3 separate regions of the Homo sapiens genome follow, and all the other regions are linked to region 2. Evidence: fine-mapped expression QTL. A gene starts in region 2. Each other region holds a variant in brackets. All regions are shown on one strand. Distances are between the middles of the regions. Region 1 holds the start of UNC13D (unc-13 homolog D). Region 2 holds the start of GALK1 (galactokinase 1). Region 3 overlaps FBF1 (Fas binding factor 1).

Region 1 (5,871 bases), 78 kb before region 2:
GGCCCATGGAACCTCCGGTCAGCGGCCCCGATGTCCCCTCCACTCCTGCAGGTGAGGGCCCTTGGGTGCTGGCAGCCCTTCGGGACCAGCCCTCTCCTCCCCGATGTCGCACAGAGAGCCTCAGAATGGCCAGAGACTGCTGAGAGCCGCAGATGATGGATGACCCCTGGACTACCCCAGGGGCCCAGCAGGGCTGTGGCCTGGTGGAGCGGAGCTAGATTCTGGCCCCACCCCCATCCCTTAGCTATCCATGTGCCCTGGGCGGGGAAGGTCACCCTGTGTGCCTCTCGATCCTCTCATCTACACTCAGCTGGTCGGTCACAGTGGCACCTGGGGCATTGGCTCAAGGATTAGATGAGGTGAGACATGCGATGGGCCTGGAAAGGACCGTGCCAGCGCGTGGCATGTGCTCAGGAAACCTCACCTGCTGCTCTCATTGGTGGAACTGGACCCCCAGCACCAGCTGCCCCGAGCCATGGGGGCCCGGGGTCTCTTAGCTGAGCTCAGGGGGAGGAGAACTTGTCACCGACACCAGGTGTGTTTGCTCTCACAGCCGAAGCCAAGGCCGCAGAAGCAGCCGCCAGCGCCTATTACAACCCAGGCAATCCTCACAACGTCTACATGCCCACGGTGAGAGGGCTTGGCAGTGCCGGTGCAGCCCCACAGCCGCAGATGCTGGGAGCCGCAGGGGGATGACCGCACCATGTTTTAAACCTTCTAATGCAAGTCTCTCCTTTCTCCCTTCTTTAGAGCCAGCCGCCGCCACCTCCCTACTACCCACCGGAAGATAAGAAGACCCAGTAGGCCCTCCTGCCTCCCTGCCTCCCACCCTCATCTCTCTACCCTACCCCTCCCATCGGGGCTGTGCTGGGGCTTGGGGAGGGGAGGGGGCGCCTTGTTCTCCCTCCAGGTCTGATCATAAACAATTACCAGGAACTAGCATTGTGGGACATTAGGGCCCCCGGCCTCGGGAGAGGTGCCGCCCAGCTTCCCATGCCAGCCCGGAGCCCACAGTGCTGCCCAGCGTACCTCCCTCACCGTCTGGGGCTCTTCTGGGAGCACGGAGCATCCCCTGTTCCTGTTTCACTCTCAGCTTCTCCCCTCGAAGGGACTCTCTGGCCACCTCCTCCACCGCAGTCCAGCTCCCTCAGTCTGGCACCCACTGCTACACTCAGCCTCATGAGCCACTTCAGACCAGCCAGGTGTCTTCCCGGGCCCTGCCAGACCCTGCTCACATTCCCTCTGCTGGTCTGTGCTGGTCTCAGAAGGCCACCGCGCCCGCATTCCACTCAGCCAGGGTCCAGCTGCAGCCCCCGCCACCCTTCCTTCCCTTCCCTGTCCTGGGTCATGTTGTTGCCACCCTGTGTGACTTTTGAAGCTGTAAAATGAGCTTCCAGGGCTTGGGTGGCGTCGGGGCAGGGCCGCCGAGGCTGGGAGGAAGCCCTTCTGCCTTTTGCTGGTGTTTCTGGAATTTGCTTTCCCTCACCTCTCACTTCCTTCTAGAAGGAGCTTCCTGACTGGAACCAGAGAATGCATGTCTGTCCACTTGGTGGCTGCTGGGTGGGGCCGGGAACAAGGGCCCCTGACCCTGTGTGCTGGCCGGGACCTGCCACCAGCCCCCCAGCCTGCTTCTTCCCCTTAAGCTTTGTGCCCCTGGATGCGCTAACATTCACTCTTGTTTGTCCCTGGACTGGCCATGAAGTGAGGAGATGGTTATTTAAAGAGAATTCCCTATTTATTTGACAAAAAATCCAGTTAATATATTAATGTGAAATAAACCCTGTTTGCACCTCGATTTGTTTGCTGAAAATGTGAAATAGTAAAAATGAAATAACTGGACCCTTTCTGGCTCTGCGTGTGGTGACCCGGGGGTCTCTTCCGGAAGGAGAGCCGTCTGGCCGCTGAGGGCCCTGGAGACTTCTGGGACGGTTCCCTCCCATGGGAGGATCCCCATTCTCACGGCCCAGCCAGCCTGTCTGGTCCCCAAGACAGCTCTGGCCTCTGGAGCTGGTTCTTAACGGTTGTCGCTCAGCAGCTGTGTCCCTCCCCCACTGAGTCCCCAGGGCCTGGCTGGGACAGAGGTGGATGTGGCCCAGAGTTGGCCTTGAAGGGAGGAGTTGGGGCTGCCACCTTGTCCCCTGCTGGCTCCTCGAGGAATGGCAGCCCTGGCCTAAGTCCTGGTTGCTGGAGGGAGGAGGCCGAGTCAGCCCTGGAGCACGTCAGGACCTGTGACAGGGACACTGAGGTAGCCAAGCCGGCTTGCCACCACCCACGTCACGTGCCCTGCTGTGAACTTGAAGGGACAGGAGGGTGGGAAATGGCCAAAGGCCGTGACCAGGCCCACACGCCCGCAAGTCCCCCAGCCCAGCACTGGGCACAGGGTGGGCAGGCCACAGAGCTCTAGGAAAGCCCCATGCTGAGGCGCATTTTCCTGTCCCCCGGGAGCCAAGTCTGTCCTCAGGAGAGATCGGGCAGCAGCCCCTCTGCCTCCTCCTCCTGGCCAGCCTGGCCCAGAGCTCTCTGGGACTTGGCTAAGCCCCCTTCAAGGGTGTCTGAAGGGAGCACTGTCCTGACTGCCAAGGTGGGGGCAGGGGCACAGGGCTGTCCCTGCCCAGCACAGCTTGGCCCCGTCATCTCCAAGGAATGTCACCTGTGGGGCCAGGCAGGCTGAGCAACTGGCTGTCCTCCAGGGAGACGCCTCTTGGGAGCCCCCACCCTGGGCGCCACCACACCCCACCCCACCCCGCCCCGCCCCACGTCTGGACGCACTCGAGGAAGTGGGGTGAGAACCCCCCCGGGCCCAGGTCAGCTTCTCTCAGGGTTCAGCCCAGCCTGGGCACAGCACATGGATGGGGCAGGATGCTGCCCGCCTGTTCTGGGCCCCCCCGCCCCCTGCTGAGAGCGTTGTCCCCTTCCCAGGGCCTCTGTAGGAGGGTGGGG[C/T]GGGGCCAGGCCTGCCCACGGGGTCCACCTTCTGCTCCAGCCAGAGGAGGGTCCTGTAGGGATCCCAGCTGGGGAAGGTGCAGGGGGCCTGGGAGACTGCCTCTCCGAAGCGGTGAAACCCTCACCCTTCCGTCCCTCCCAGCCACCCTCCCTAAAACTTCCCCTGACAGAGGGTGGCAGCCCCAGGCTCTTTGCATAATCCTGTGGCTTCGCTGTCTTCACCCAGCACCAGCGGACAGGGAAGGGCAGAGAAGGCCACCATGGCGACACTCCTCTCCCATCCGCAGCAGCGCCCTCCCTTCTTGCGCCAGGCCATCAAGATAAGGCGCCGCAGAGTCAGAGATCTACAGGATCCCCCGCCCCAAATGGCCCCGGAGGTAGGAGTGACCTCACTGGGGAGAGAGCTGGCCTTGGGGAGCACTGTGGTCTCGGGTACGGGTGCCCTGCTGTCTGGCCCCACCTCTCGAAGGCTGGGACTGGGGACCAGCGACCCTCCCCTGCCTACTCCACCCTGGGGAGAGCCCCCTGGGCCAGCAGAGCAGGGGCTGCCAGATGGACTCTGGGCCACTGTGGGCCTCAGGCCCTGTGGTCTGAGGCTCTCAGAACCCCTCCCTCCCGGTTGGCCTGACCCCATCCCCTACTCCTCCAGCTTCAGAAGAGCCGACTCCATTAGGTGGGGGTGTCCCTGCTGTGGGGTGAGCTGTTCGGGGAGCAGCAGACCCCCAGGCCGACGTGGCACCCCCCTCACCTCCGCTGCCGAGCCTCACTTCCGCTGCTGGGTGAGGAGCAGCCGCCACTGATAAGCAGAGCTGTTTCCTCTGGGGAAGGGAGGGAGGTGGGGTGCGGGTGCGGAGGGCTCGCGCTGCTGGGCACCCATGGACCTCAGCCACGGCGGGCCCAGGGACGGACCTCCAGGAGGCCTGCTGGGGGAACAGGTGCGGGGCATCACTGGGGCTGGAGGCCGGGGTGCTGGGGCCCCCATACCCTTGGCCTGGATCAGGCCTCAGAGGAGCCATTCCTGTCCATCTGAGCCTGCTCTGGGCCTCCCGGGACACTGCCTTTCCACCTTGCTCTGCAGATCCAGCCTCCATCCCACCACTTCTCCCCCGAGCAGGTAAGAGTCAGAGTGCTGGGGTGCAGAGAGGTGGGGAGGGCGGCTGTGTGTCCTCCTGCCGGCCGACGCTGATGGCAGCAAGCAACTTGCGGTGGGGAGGGGACTCCTGGGTCTCAACTCCCTCCGCTGCACAAGCCGCCCTTGTCCTGCCCATGGCGAGAGGTGTTGGTGCCAGGGGTGGCTGGTGGGGTCCCCAAGGTGACCCCGTGTGTCTTAGCGGGCCCTGCTCTACGAGGACGCACTCTACACTGTCTTGCACCGCCTGGGTCATCCTGAGCCCAACCATGTGACGGAGGCCTCTGAGCTGCTGCGATACCTGCAGGAGGTGAGCCCGGCTCCCACCCCACCCCCCTTCCTGCAGCTGCCCTGTCTGGTGCCCCCAGCCACCCACCCGCCTGCCTCCCCACCAGGCCTTCCACGTGGAGCCCGAGGAGCACCAGCAGACACTGCAGCGGGTCAGGGAGCTTGAGGTAACCTGGGGCCAGGGTCCCCCTGGGCAAGGAGGGGCCTGGGAAGCCCAGCCCCCTCAGGGACTCAGGCCATCCCTCCTGTCCCTCCAGAAGCCAATATTTTGTCTGAAGGCAACAGTGAAACAGGCCAAGGGCATTCTGGGCAAAGATGTCAGTGGTGAGCATGGGGTGGGGTCCCCAAGGGGCTTCTTCCTGGCTCCTTCCTCTCCCATCACAGCCTGGCCCAGGACTCTTGGCGGGAGCACCCACTTCCAAGAAGCCCTGTAGCGCTGGCCCCCCATGCTGCTGGTCCCCTTCCCTCTCCCCCGGAGGAGGCTCAGCCCCGGGCGGGGGTGATGAGGGCCTCTCCCAGGGACCCAGCCGACTCCCTGGCTGCCTCGTCTTCCCCACTCCTCCACAGGGTTCAGCGACCCCTACTGCCTGCTGGGCATTGAGCAGGGGGTAGGTGTGCCAGGGGGCAGCCCCGGGTCCCGGCATCGGCAGAAGGCTGTGGTGAGGCACACCATCCCCGAGGAGGAGACCCACCGCACGCAGGTCATCACCCAGACACTCAACCCCGTCTGGGACGAGACCTTCATCCTGTACGTGGCCGTGCTCCAGCCCCCACTCTATCCAGGTCTTTCCTGGGTAGCAGGGTCTGCCCCAGACAATGAGATGAGTAGGTCGTCCTGGCTCAGGGGAGGGGGTTTGGCCCTGGGCAAAGACTAGAGGAGAAGCCCATCTCCAGGCACGTTAGGTGGACAGTAGGTCAGATGGGACAGAACAAGATCAATGCCACACGTGCTGATGGGGCAAGGAGGGTCAGGCCCTTGTGGGTGAGTCTGGGGGTGCCTGAAGCTGTACCTGAAAGGAGGCAGGGATGGGTGCAGTGGTTCCCACCTGTAATCCCAGCACTTTGGGAGGCCAGGAGACTGAGACCAGCCTGGCCAACATGGCAAAACCCCATCTCTACTAAAAATACAAAAAAGGCCGGGCGTGGTGGCTCACGCCTATAATCCCAGCATTTTGGGAGGCTGAGGAGGGCAGATCATGAGGTCAGGAGATTGAGACCATCCTGGCTAACACGGTGAAACCCCGTCTCTACTAAAATACAAAAAATTAGCCGGGCGTGGTGGCAGGCGCCTGTAGTCCCAGCTACTCGGAAGGCTGAGGCAGGGGAATCGCTTGAACCTGGGAGGCGGAGGTTGCAGTGAGCCGAGATAGCACCACTGCACTCCAGCCTGGTGACAGAGCGACACTCTGTCTCAAAAAAAAAAAAAAAAATTAGTGGGGGCCAGGCGCAGGGACTCATGCCTGTAATCCCAGCACTTTTGGGAGGCCGAGGCAGGTGGATCACCTGAGGTCAGG
Region 2 (5,871 bases):
ATTTTTTAGTAAAGATGGGGTTTCACTATGTTGGCCGGGCTGGTCTTGAACTCCTGACCTCAAGTGATCCACCCGCCTCGGCCTCCCAAAGTGCTGGGATTACATGCATGAGCCACCGTGCCCGGCTAATTTTTGATTTTTTTGGAGAGATGAGGTCTCCCTTTGTTGCCCAGGCTGGTCTTGAACTCCTGGTCTCAAGCGATTTGCCCACCTCAGCCTCCCAGTGTTGGGATTACAGGCGTGAGCCACCACACCTGGGCCCCATTCTTTTCTTAACAGCTTTATTGAGATATAATACATACCATATAATTCACCCATTTAAAACATAAAATTCAACAGTTTAGGATATTCACAGGCATGTGCAACCATCACCACAGTCCATTTTAGAACATTTTCCTTACCACAGAGAAACCTGCCATCCTTTGGCTCTGACCCTGCTATTCCCTCAGGCCTAAGCAACCGCTAATTAACTTTCCATCTGTAGAGATTTGCCGATTCTGGATATACAACAGGTGGTCTTGTGTGACTGGCTTCCTTCACTCACCATAATATTTTCAAAGTTCATTCTTTTTTTTTTTTTTTTGAGACGGAGTTTTGCGCTGTCACCTGGGCTGGAGTGCAGTGGCACGATCTCTGCTCACTGCAAGCTCCGCCTCCCAGGTTCACGCCATTCTCCTGCCTCAGCCTCCCGAGTAGCTGGGACTACAGGTGCCCGCCACCACGCCCAGCTAATTTTTTTCTTGAAGGCTCCATCCATGTTGTTACACGTATCAGTACTTCATTTCTTTTTATGGATTAATATTTCTATTGTATAGATACATCACTTGTTTTTTTTTCCCGAGACCAAGTCTCACTATGTCACCTAGGCTGGAGTGCAGTGACGAGATCTCGGTTCACTGCAAACTCCACCCCCCGGGTTCAAGTGATTCTTGTGTCTCAGCCTCCCGAGTAAGCTGGCATTACACATGTGCGCCACCATGCCTGGCTAATTTTTGTGTTTTCAGTAGAGATGGGGTTTCACCATGTTGGCCAGGCTGGTCTGGTCTTGAACTCCTGCTCTCAAGTGATCCGCCTACCTCGGTCTCCCAAAGTCTGGGATCACAGGCATGAACCACCACATCTGACATTTGAGCATCTTTTCATGTGCTTATTGGCCATTTGTATTTATATTATTTGGAAAAATGTCTCTTGAAATCTTTTGCTTTTTTTTTTTCTTCTTTGACACAGGGTCTCTCACCTTCTGAGTAGCTGGGACCACAGGTGTGTGCCACCCAACCTGGCTAATTTTTTTTTTTTTTTTTGTAGCAGTGAGGTCTTCCCACGTTGCCCAAGTTGGTCTCAAACTCCAAGCCCCTGAGATATACATGATTTGCAAGTACTTTCTTCCATTCTGTGAGTTGTCTTTTCACTTTCTTGACAATGTTCTTGTCAGGCCTCTGAGCCCAAGCTAAGCCATCATAGCCCCCGTGACCTGCACGTATACATCCAGATGGCCTGAAGCAACTGAATATCCACAAAAGAAGTGAAAATAGCCTTAACTGATGACATTCCACCACTGTGATTTGTTCCTGCCCCAACCTAACTGATCAATGTACTTTGTAATCTCCCCCACCCTTAAGAAGGTTCTTTGTAATTCTCCCCACCCTTGAGAATGTACTTTGTGAGATCCATCCCTGCCCGCAAAACATTGCTCCTAACTCCACCACCTATCCCAAAACCTATAAGAACTAATGATAATCCCACCACCCTTTGCTTACTCTTTTCAGACTCAGCCCGCCTGCACCCAGGTGAAATAAACAGCCTTGTTGCTCACACAAAGCCTGTTTGGTGGTCTGTTCACACGGACACGCGTGACAGTTCTTTGTTGCAGAAAAATATTTCACTTTGATGAAGTACAGTTTATTTTTCTGTTGTCACTTGTGCTTTTGATGTCATATCTAAAAAACCATTGCCTGGCCGCATTGGCTCACACCTGTATCCCAGCACTTTGGGAGGCTGAGGCAGGCAAATCACTTGAGGTCAGGAGTTCAAGAGCAGCCTGGCCAACATGGTGAAACCCTGCTTTTACAAAAATTATCCAGGCATGGTGGAGGGTGCCTGTAATCCCAGTTACTGGGGAGGCTGAGGCAGGAGAATCGCTTGAACCTGGGAGGCGGAGGTTGCAGTGAGCCAAGATCGCGCCACTGCACTCCAGCCTGGGTAACAGAGCAAGATCTGTCTAAAATAAATAAATACGTAAATAAATAAAAATAAAAAAACATGACTAGGTGTGGTGGCTAACGCCTGTAATCCCAGCACTTTGGGAGGCCAAGGTGGGTGGATCACCTGAGGTCAGGAGTTTGAGACCAGCCTGGCTAACCTGGTGAAACCCCAGTCTCCACTAAAAATACAAAAAATTAGCCGGGCATGGTGGCACGTGCCTGTAATCCCAGCTACTCCGGAGGCTGAGGCAGGAGAATCGCTTGAACCCGGGAGGCAGAGGTTGCAGTAAGCTGAGATCACGCCATTGCACTCCAGCTTGGACAACGAGAGCGAAACTCCGTCTCAAAAACAGAAACCAAATAAACATTTCCTAACCAATGTCACAAAACTGTACCCCTATGTTTTCTTCTAAGAGTTTTCAGAATTGCCCTTGGAATGCAGTTCCCCACTCTTTGGGCACACCCCTGAGCAGGCCCCAAGCTAAATCCCTGGCCATAACTCCCCACACTACTCCCACCCTAACCCCAAGCAAGCTGCTTACATTTCAGTCTTTCAGTTTCAAGGTTCCATGTAGGGTGGGCAGCTGTGGACAGGTATCAAGGCAGCAGTTGGGGCCGGCCAGCAGGTTTAGGATGCAGGATAGCAAGAGAAGAGTGCCTGACTGGGAACAAGGCCACGCCTCTGAGACAAGGGCTTCTGGGCTGAAGTAGTGCCTGCTGGGGCCAACAGCACAACCTACCTGGACAGCTGTGGCAGGTCCTTAAGGGAGGGGCTGGGCCCACTGCTGGCCACCGCCACCCTAGTCCAATTCTCCATTGCTAGGAGCTGTTGCGTATTACCTAGAAAAGGAGCTTGTAAAATTGACTCTCTGGTCACCACCAAACTTGTCTTTTTTTTTTTTGAGACAGAGTTTTGCTCTTGTTGCCCAGGCTGGAGTGCAATGGTGTGATCTCAGCTCACCGAAACCTCCGCCTCCCAGGTTCAAGTGATTCTCCTGCCTCAGCCTCCCGAGTAGCTGGGATTACAGGCATGAGCCACCATGCCCAGCTAATTTTGTATTTTTTAGTAGAGATGGGGTTTCTCCATGTTGGTCAGGCTGGTCTCCAACTCCCGACCTCAGGTGATCTGCACACCTCGGCCTCCCAAAGTGCTGGGATTACAGGCGTGAGCCACTGCGCCCGGCCCAAACTTGTCTGTCTTTATCTCTACTTACAGTGAGTGTCAGGTCACCCTCTTGGAGACCGGTGATCAGAGGCTGATGACCTCTCACAGCTGCTGGCCCTGGGGACCTAGGGGATCCCTTTGGGAATCCCAGGTCAACCGGGTGCCAGCTCCATTGCTCTGGCTGTGTGGGTGGTGGTGGGTGGTGAGGCACATAGAAAGTCACCAGCGCCAGGGAAGGGCAGCTCAGAAATCCTGGTCATGCCAAGTGCCACTCAGGGCTATTCTCACTCTAGTGAGTGCTCATTGGTTCTTCCCGAAGTCCAGAGGGAAGGACACCATCGGGGGCGCTGTATCCCACCCGGCACCATTAGCCCCTGCCACCCACCACCCAGCAGCTGGATTCCCACGGGAGTTGCGGGTGGGGGCGGAACCGGCTGAGGTCTGGGGGCGGGGCGTCCGGGCGCGGGGCGGGGCTGGCGGGAATGTGCGCACCCCCGCGCGGGGCCCCGCCCGAGCATCCCGCGCCGACGGGGCTGTGCCGGAGCAGCTGTGCAGAGCTGCAGGCGCGCGTCATGGCTGCTTTGAGACAGCCCCAGGTCGCGGAGCTGCTGGCCGAGGCCCGGCGAGCCTTCCGGGAGGAGTTCGGGGCCGAGCCCGAGCTGGCCGTGTCAGCGCCGGGCCGCGTCAACCTCATCGGGGAACACACGGACTACAACCAGGGCCTGGTGCTGCCTATGGTGAGGGGCTGCACGGGGAGCCCCTAGCCCGCCGCCGCCTGTCCCGGCCGCCGAGGAGGGCGGGCCTCGGGGACGCTGGGGGCGAGTTCTTCCCGCGGGAGATGTGGGGCGGGCAGCTGCGCCTGGAGCACCGGTGCACGGAAGAGTCCCCGGGACAGGCTGTTCCCCACGTTGGAAGGGAGGAAGCGAGGAAGTGGCCGGGAGAGGGTGCGCGGCCGCCTCTTGGCTCAAGCCCGCCCTCTGGGGGCTGGGGCTCCTCGCCTTCAACCTGGGAGCATGTTCCCCTTAAACTGTGAGGCCCTGTGTGCCACGCAGAAGGGGACACTCCGCGCCTCCGGCCACCGTGGGGCCCCAACCGCAGACCTGGGCGAACGTAGCCTTCTGGCCCAGCCCGTTCAATTTACAGAGGAGGAAACTGAGGCCTAGAGAGGCCCAGTGAACTGCTGGAGGTCACACAGCAGGTTCTTGGCGGGGCTGCGACTTGGGAGTGAGGACTCCCAGCTTTCAGCGGGGGGCGCTTTCCGCCCCATCTGCAGCTTGGGGAGTGCACAGGTACAGGATGTCCAGAGCCACCCCAAAATGTAAAGGCTTTGGAGCTCCAGTGATCTGTTTTCCCTTTGGGCTAGCTCTCCCCCTTGCCCCACAGCTCAGGGCAGAGTCCAGGTCTGTGCTCCAGCTGCAGCCGCCCCGCCCCTGAAGACCTAAGGGGGCAGGGCTCAAGCCCCCAAGGTCAGCTGGCCCTCAGGATCTTCCCTGCGACGCTGAACCTGGAGGTTCAGAACCTGATGACTGTGGAGGCATCAGAACCTCGGCTGGAGGCAGTGTCATTGGAGAGGCTTACTCCAGCTGGCGGAAGCCTCACGTACTGCTTGTCTCTCCTGCCAGGCTCTGGAGCTCATGACGGTGCTGGTGGGCAGCCCCCGCAAGGATGGGCTGGTGTCTCTCCTCACCACCTCTGAGGGTGCCGATGAGCCCCAGCGGCTGCAGTTTCCACTGCCCACAGCCCAGCGCTCGCTGGAGCCTGGGACTCCTCGGTGGGCCAACTATGTCAAGGGAGTGATTCAGTACTACCCAGGTATGGGGCCCAGGCCTGAGCCAAGTCCTCACTGATACTAGGAGTGCCACCTCACAGCCACAGAGCCCATTCATTTGTCTGATACACTGTGGGGAAGGCTTGTAGAGTGGAGCATCCCATTGTACAGATGAGGAAACTGATGCCCCCAGAAGGTCGGGAACTTGCCCTGGGTTTCCCGTGACCTGATTGGAGGAGCCAGGATTTGAACCCCAGCCTTTTTTCCCTCCAGAGCCCTAAACCAGGAGGACAATTAGAAGTGTCCCAGCAACCTCAGAGGGTGGGAAAATGGAGGGCAGTGGGTCCCTTGGCCCAGCAGGTTGGTGGCTTCTGACAATTGAGACACACACCCTAGAAACAGCTGCTAGGCCGTTGCTGCCCTTCCCGCCAGGACACCTGCCCTTCCTGTGCCATCCTCCCAGGCAGCCCCTCTTACCATCACCTGTTCTTTCCCCTGCAGCTGCCCCCCTCCCTGGCTTCAGTGCAGTGGTGGTCAGCTCAGTGCCCCTGGGGGGTGGCCTGTCCAGCTCAGCATCCTTGGAAGTGGCCACGTACACCTTCCTCCAGCAGCTCTGTCCAGGTACCAGCTAGGCCCCAGCCCTGACCCAGCCCTCCTTCCCTGAGGTCTCCAGGTGGTCCCAGCTTCTACTATGCCTTATGGAGGGGGTGGCAGGGACTCTCCCTGGAGTGTCATTG
Region 3 (5,871 bases), 160 kb before region 2:
GCCCCACCGGCAAGCCTGAGGCAGGCCCCGTAGGTCCAGGGCCGCCCTCCAACTCCCTCTCTCCTTGCCCGGCCTGTCTTTTTGTGGAGTCCCCGTTGCCCCAGGCCCCACCCTCCAGATGCCAGGGGGCTTGTTTATGTACTGGAGCAGCTAGAAGCCTTGACTCGAGCGCTGCTCCCCAGTTCAGGCTTGCTTTTCCTCAACTAAGTGCTGCAGTCTGACCTGTGCTTTCCCTTCTGCTGTGAGACTTGGAAGACCCATTGAGAGGACTTCTCTCCTATGATGAAGGAGGAATCACCAAGCAGCCGCCTGTGACACAGAGTAAAACAGCTTCTGACAAGAGCCCCAGCACAGTGAGAGATCAAGGTAGGGTGGAGTGGGCTCATTTCCCATCCTGGAGGAAGAGTTTATTGGCAACAAGCTAACCAGCCTTTCTGGTGCAGAACCAGAGGCCTCTCCCAGGTGGGGACCAGAGGTCTAAGGTCCAGTACAAAGAGATCATCAGCCTTTAGGAATAGGAAGGTAGGACGTGTGAGTCTGGGAGTAGGCTGGAGGAATTGGGTCCCGTGGACAGACCAGGCAGGTCTAAAGCCTGTCGTCCTACCCAAAGGTGCAGAGAAACCACCCCCAACCCCATTCAGATATCACAGTTGAGGGCAAGAAGGCTGCAGGCATTGGGCCTTGTTTTGTCTTTCAGGTCCCTCTATTCCTCTAACTCCTGGGGACACCCCCATCCGAAAAAAAGAAGAATTGTTGTTTGATGATGGGGATGACATCATGGCCACCTTGGGGTTTGGAGACAGCCCCAAAGCAGAGAAGAGGCAGATAGGAGACCAGTAAGGATCCCTGAGTAGGCCAGGCTGCTGCCTCAGGTTCAGGGAAAAGCTGGTGGACGGGTACTGTGGGATTCCCGAGAGCCCCTCATACCTACACGTTCCTGCCGTGTGTCCCGTCCTGCAGGGAAGGGCCTCGCCCTGCTCGCTCCACGCTGGATGAGCTGCTGGGTCGAGGCATGGCCACCAAACTCCTGGCCCGCCCGGGCACCGGGGAGCACAGGGAGTTCAAGCTAGACAAGAAGTACCAGAGGCCACAGGGTAAGGAGGCTTGCGGGGGCCGCAACAGGACGGGAGGGAGGCCTCTAGATCAGGCTTTCATCACAACCTATAATGAGAAATCAGCCTCACATCCTGATACACACATGTGATTATACACGTCTATAGCTGAGACAAAATAATACTTACCGTGAAATAATACTTACCGTGACCACTGTTCGTGCTCAGTTGTCTATGATTGAGATGCTGTTTGATTTGGAAACACACTGGCTGTGACACATTAAGCTGGTTTCTCAGCCCTCTCATGGGTAGCAGCTCGCATTTGAAAAGCACTGCTCTGGACATGTTTCTCAAAGCATCAGCCCACAAGCTGTCTGCTGAGAATCATTCTTGTGACACATGCCGCTCGCTGGACCTGACCTCGAGGGATCCTGGGGCAGGGTCTGGCTACTGCAAGGCCACTGCATCTTCCTGGCCAGTGCCTGAGGTGCTCCCTTCACAGCAGCTTCCCTCTGCTTGTCTTACACAACAAGCTACCAAATTCAGCTTTTGTTAGAATTTTGCAGCCGCAAATGAGCTTGGTTCCCCTACTCCAGATCACGGTCACAGGCTCCTTAATTCACAGACAGTGAAGATATGTGGGGTGACGAGGACTTCACCTTTGGAGCCTATCAGCCCACTGTGGTCTCCTCTGAGGGCCGGCAGTCCCGCCGGCAGTCTGTCAGGTAAGTGGGGCCTGCAGGAGGCTTGGCCTCTTGAGACAGGTCGGCCACTGGGAAGACAGGCCCCTGCAGCTGTCCCCTGTCCCACCCGAGAGTCTCATGTGGGAGGCCACAGGGTACAAGGCCCTCAGCTCTGCAGGTGCTGAAGGAAGCGGGAGATGGCCTGGTCCCGCCAGCCCAGACAGAGTGGAGGAGATGGCCCCAGTGGGAACCCCCATCCCAGACGCTGCTCAGGTTCGCCAGTGCCCCACCCAGCCTCAGAAGGAAAGGGGCAGGTGGGCCTGCCTCCACCTAAAGCCCCTGAAATCATAAAAGGCTGTGATGTCGCTCGGTCTCCCCAAGGAACATACTTCCTGATGGGTAGCAAGACCACTGGCATCTGCGGTGGCTTCTTAGACCCCGCTTCCCAGGAACTCTGCTGTCGAACCTGCCGTGACAATTCTGACAGCGTGATCCTCTCAGTTTACAAAAAAAAAAATTAAATCAGTGATAGGATTTTCTGAGTTTGGAGTTCTTTTGCCAGTATATATTTTAAACTTTGTATTTTGAAGTAATTTCAAACTTCAAAAGTCGGCTGGGTATGGTGGCTCATGCCTGTAATCTCAGCAGTTTGGGAGACCAAGGCAGGTGGATCACCTGAGGTCAGGAGTTCAAGACCAGCCTGGCCAACATGGTGAAACCCCGTCTCTGCTGAAAATACAAAAATTAGCTGGGCGTGGTGGTGGGCGCCTGTGATTCCAGCTACTCGGGAGGCTGAGGCAGGAGAATAGCTTGAATCCTAGAGGCGGAAGTTGTGGTGAGCTGAGATTGCACCACTCACTGCACTCCAGCCTGGGCAATAGAGCGAGACTCCGTCTCAAAAAAAAACTTCAGAAGTTGTAAGAACAGCACCAGGAGCCCCTCTCATCCTTTCCCAGGTTCAGCAGTTGTTCCCATTTGCCAGGTTGGCTTCTTCATCCTCTTTCTATCTGAATAGCTCTAAGCACATCGGCATTACTTCCCATACCCAGTACGTTCTTAACCCTGGGAACCTGCTGCCACTGGTCAGTGACAGATGAAGGCCACGGCCGAACAAATGAAGTAACTGTTGTTGGAAAACCTGGAAACCACTTGATCCAACTTATTATTATTTTTTTTAGACAGAGTCTCACTCTGTCGCCCAGGCTGGAGTGCAGTGGCATGATCTCGGCTTACCACAACCTCTGCCTCCCGGGTTCAAGCAATTCTCATGCCTCAGCCTCCCAAGTAGCTGGGATTACAGGCGCCCACCACCACACCTGACTAATTTTTTT[G/TG]TGTTTTTAGTAGAGATGGGGTTTCACATGTTGGCCAGGCTGGTCTTGAACTCCTGGCCTTAAGCGATCTGCCCACCCTGGCCTCCCAAAGATCTGGGATTACAGACATGAGCCACCGTGCTCGGCCTGATTTTTCTTTAGACCTGTGTGCCCATGGCTGTCATTTGATCCTGTTCCTGTTCTCTGTGGGTAGAACTGTCCCTGGTTCATGTGATGGAAGTCAAGGTCTCTGTACTTCGTGGTGTTCTACAGACAGCACGTGGCCTGCCACCTGAGCCGGTCCAGGAGCCACTGCTCACTGGGCCTCAGCTGACTGTGCAGGGTCCCTGGGCATCGTGACGCCCAGCTGCAGGCTGCTAGGGGGCCACTGGGACTGGCTGTTTCCCCTGCCTGACACCCTCCTTTCTGTCTTGAAGTAGGTTCTTCGCAGACAGTGGCGCAGACCCCAAGGGAGAACCAGGCTCCAAACAGAGCCCTCCAATGGCTTCCAGCCCCATCCAGCCCAGGAAGGGAGGAGCTGACTGGTTGGGCCTCAAGGACGAGGACTTGGACCTGTTCCCTGCCTCACCCACCAGAGAGGCCCATCGGGAAAGTTCAGTGCCTGTCACGCCCTCAGTGCCTCCTCCTGCGAGCCAGCACTCCACGCCAGCTGGGCTGCCCCCCTCCAGGGCAAAGCCACCAACTGAAGGTGCAGGGTCCCCTGCCAAAGCCAGCCAGGCTTCCAAGCTGCGAGCCTCCAAGGAGGAGAAAGAGGACTGGCTGAGCCATGCCCTGTCTCGGAAGAAGTCCCAAGGCCTGGCCAGAGAGCAGCATGCTGGGACCTCTGAGGGCCTGCATTTGGCGGGGACAGCGGGCCATCCCCCTTCTGGCAGGTACTGACTTAGGCTGCTGTGGCTAGTAGGGGGAGGACTGGCTGGGGACTTGAGGAGCCCCTTTGCCCCTTCACCTGTTGCAGCCTCAGTCAGCAGTTGGGGAACAAGGCAGGGCGCCGTGGCCACAGAGGCCGCTTCTTGGCTTTGCTACTCTGCCTTTTAGGCACTGCAGAGAGAGCCTCTGGCTCCCAGGCTTGCCCCAGGGACATACCCAAGAAGGAGGGCTGTTGACATTCATGCCCTGACCGCCATGGGGACAGGTGCTAACTTGATCGAGGAGAAGACAGAGGGTCCCTGAGGTGGCAGACACACCGCTGCCCTGTCACAGCGCCCTCAGGCTGGAAGCCCCGGCATCCAAACAGCCGGTGCTTCTGCCGACTCCACTGAAGCGAGTATGGCGTGTGTGAGCTGAGATGTCCCTGTGCTCTTTGAGAGTGTTAGAGGAGACATAGTGGCCGAGAGGCGCCTCTTGGAGAAGCCCTTATCCGTGGGGCAGGATAGCGAGTGACCTCTGAAGGCAGGAAGGCACAAGGGGCCAGCAGGCTGGGGGAGTCCAGAGGAAGTGGTGAGATGTGCTGTGGCCAGAGCCCAGGGGAGTGAACTGGGCAATTTGTGACAGCCCAGGGACATCACCCTGTCCTGGGGTTGATGACAGGAGGGCAGTTTTGACTTTGACCTGAGGCCGAGGGGAAAGCTCAGGCCAAAACAGAAAAGAGCCTGTCTCTTCACTGACCCGTGAGCCGAGAAAGAGGTGGAAATAATGGGAAAGGGAGCCAGCCAGATTTGGTAGACTGAGCAGAATCCTAATCTAGAGCTGAGCCAAGTTAAGTGGACTGGAACAGGGCTCTGAACTTGAACTTGACTCCAGTGTCTATAACATTTCCGTTGTCACTGCTTGGACAGTGTCCATTCACTGCACCACTGTGGACATTGAGGCAGGAAGGGGGTACTGGAAGGGAAGAGATGCCCAGAAATCCCAGGAGCTCAGACGTGGGAGGAGAATGCCCCAAGACGGGATGGTGGAAGCAGGAGGAAGGGGGGCCACGAGCTTCACGTGTGAAGCCCGTCCTGGGCCCTGTCTTCATCCAGCCTGACCTGGGCCTTCTGTCACCTTCACCTTGAACGCTGCCTTTCCTCAGCCAACCTCTCACCAGCACACAAGGGCTTGAGCACGCAGCTGCTGGAGGGAGTTCTGGAACAACTGCACGAGAAAGACCGTGTGTCAGGCCTGGTGTCTCGGGGTAGGCCTGGGCTGCGGGCTGAGTGGGAATGAGAGCATGGTGGGCAGCACAGGCCTCTGTCCTGAGAGAGGGACACAGAGGCTGTTCACCCTGCCCCTGCCCCGTCCCCGTGTCCCACACAGAGGCTGCCCACCCTGCTCCGTCCCTGTGCCCTACACAGAGGCTGCCCACCCTGCCCCATCCCCGTGTCCCACCTAGAGGCTGCCCACCCTGCCCCGTCCCCGTGTCCCAGCAGAGGCTGCCCACCCTGCCCCATCCCCGTGTCCCACGTAGAGGCTGCCCACCCTGCCCCGTCCCCATGTCCCACCTAGAGGCTGCCCACCCTGCCCCGTCCCCGTGTCCCACACAGAGGCTGCTCACCATGCCCCATCCCTGTGTCCTCAGGTCCCCTGTGACTCAGAACCATGCCGCCTCAGCACTCCCTACAGGTTCCCCAAAGAGGGGAACAGCCCCTGGAGACCTCTCAGCCACTGGTTTGTTTTTTGTTTGCTGCTTCATTTGGGAGTTTAACCCTGGGTGAGGAAGAGGTGCTTTGAGCTTCCTTTGGGGTCCCTGGGACATGAGTTACACCAGCCCCTCCTGGACACTCGCAGGCCCAGTGCCCTGGGCCTCCTGTTCATTTCTCTGTTGTTGATGTTTCAGAGCCTGCCACGTGTTTCCCGAGCACCCAGAAACCCACAGAGCCTTCCGTG

What was found.
Region 1: its variant is fine-mapped to the expression of GALK1 in whole blood (TOPMed, PIP above 0.99).
Region 3: its variant is fine-mapped to the expression of GALK1 in whole blood (TOPMed, PIP 0.94).

What each region holds. Positions count from the first base shown.
Region 1 is chr17:75,841,667-75,847,537 of GRCh38, reverse strand. It overlaps UNC13D (unc-13 homolog D), which reads left to right and starts at 3,134. Exons shown (of 32, transcript NM_199242.3): 1 at 3,134-3,317; 2 at 4,019-4,054; 3 at 4,272-4,379; 4 at 4,465-4,524; 5 at 4,615-4,681; 6 at 4,925-5,105. The coding sequence starts at 3,201. WBP2 (WW domain binding protein 2) reads left to right here. Exons shown (of 8, transcript NM_012478.4): 6 at 1-51; 7 at 554-630; 8 at 751-1,839. The coding sequence ends at 804. RefSeq lists enhancers at 2,195-2,284, 2,415-2,494, 2,913-3,617 and silencers at 2,725-2,884, 2,895-2,954, 3,805-3,864. The variant C/T (reference allele first, on the strand shown) is at 2,941.
Region 2 is chr17:75,763,204-75,769,074 of GRCh38, reverse strand. It overlaps GALK1 (galactokinase 1), which reads left to right and starts at 3,883. Exons shown (of 8, transcript NM_000154.2): 1 at 3,883-4,103; 2 at 4,989-5,178; 3 at 5,636-5,755. The coding sequence starts at 3,939. RefSeq lists silencers at 3,719-3,908, 4,139-4,288 and enhancers at 4,399-4,628, 4,659-4,868.
Region 3 is chr17:75,921,253-75,927,123 of GRCh38, reverse strand. FBF1 (Fas binding factor 1) reads left to right here. Exons shown (of 30, transcript NM_001319193.2): 10 at 247-366; 11 at 698-836; 12 at 961-1,094; 13 at 1,678-1,777; 14 at 3,483-3,938; 15 at 5,078-5,179; 16 at 5,564-5,652; 17 at 5,822-5,871. Among named protein-coding and RNA genes, the nearest start is that of FBF1, 17 kb to the left of the region's middle. RefSeq lists enhancers at 222-1,421, 4,818-5,871. The variant G/TG (reference allele first, on the strand shown) is at 3,067.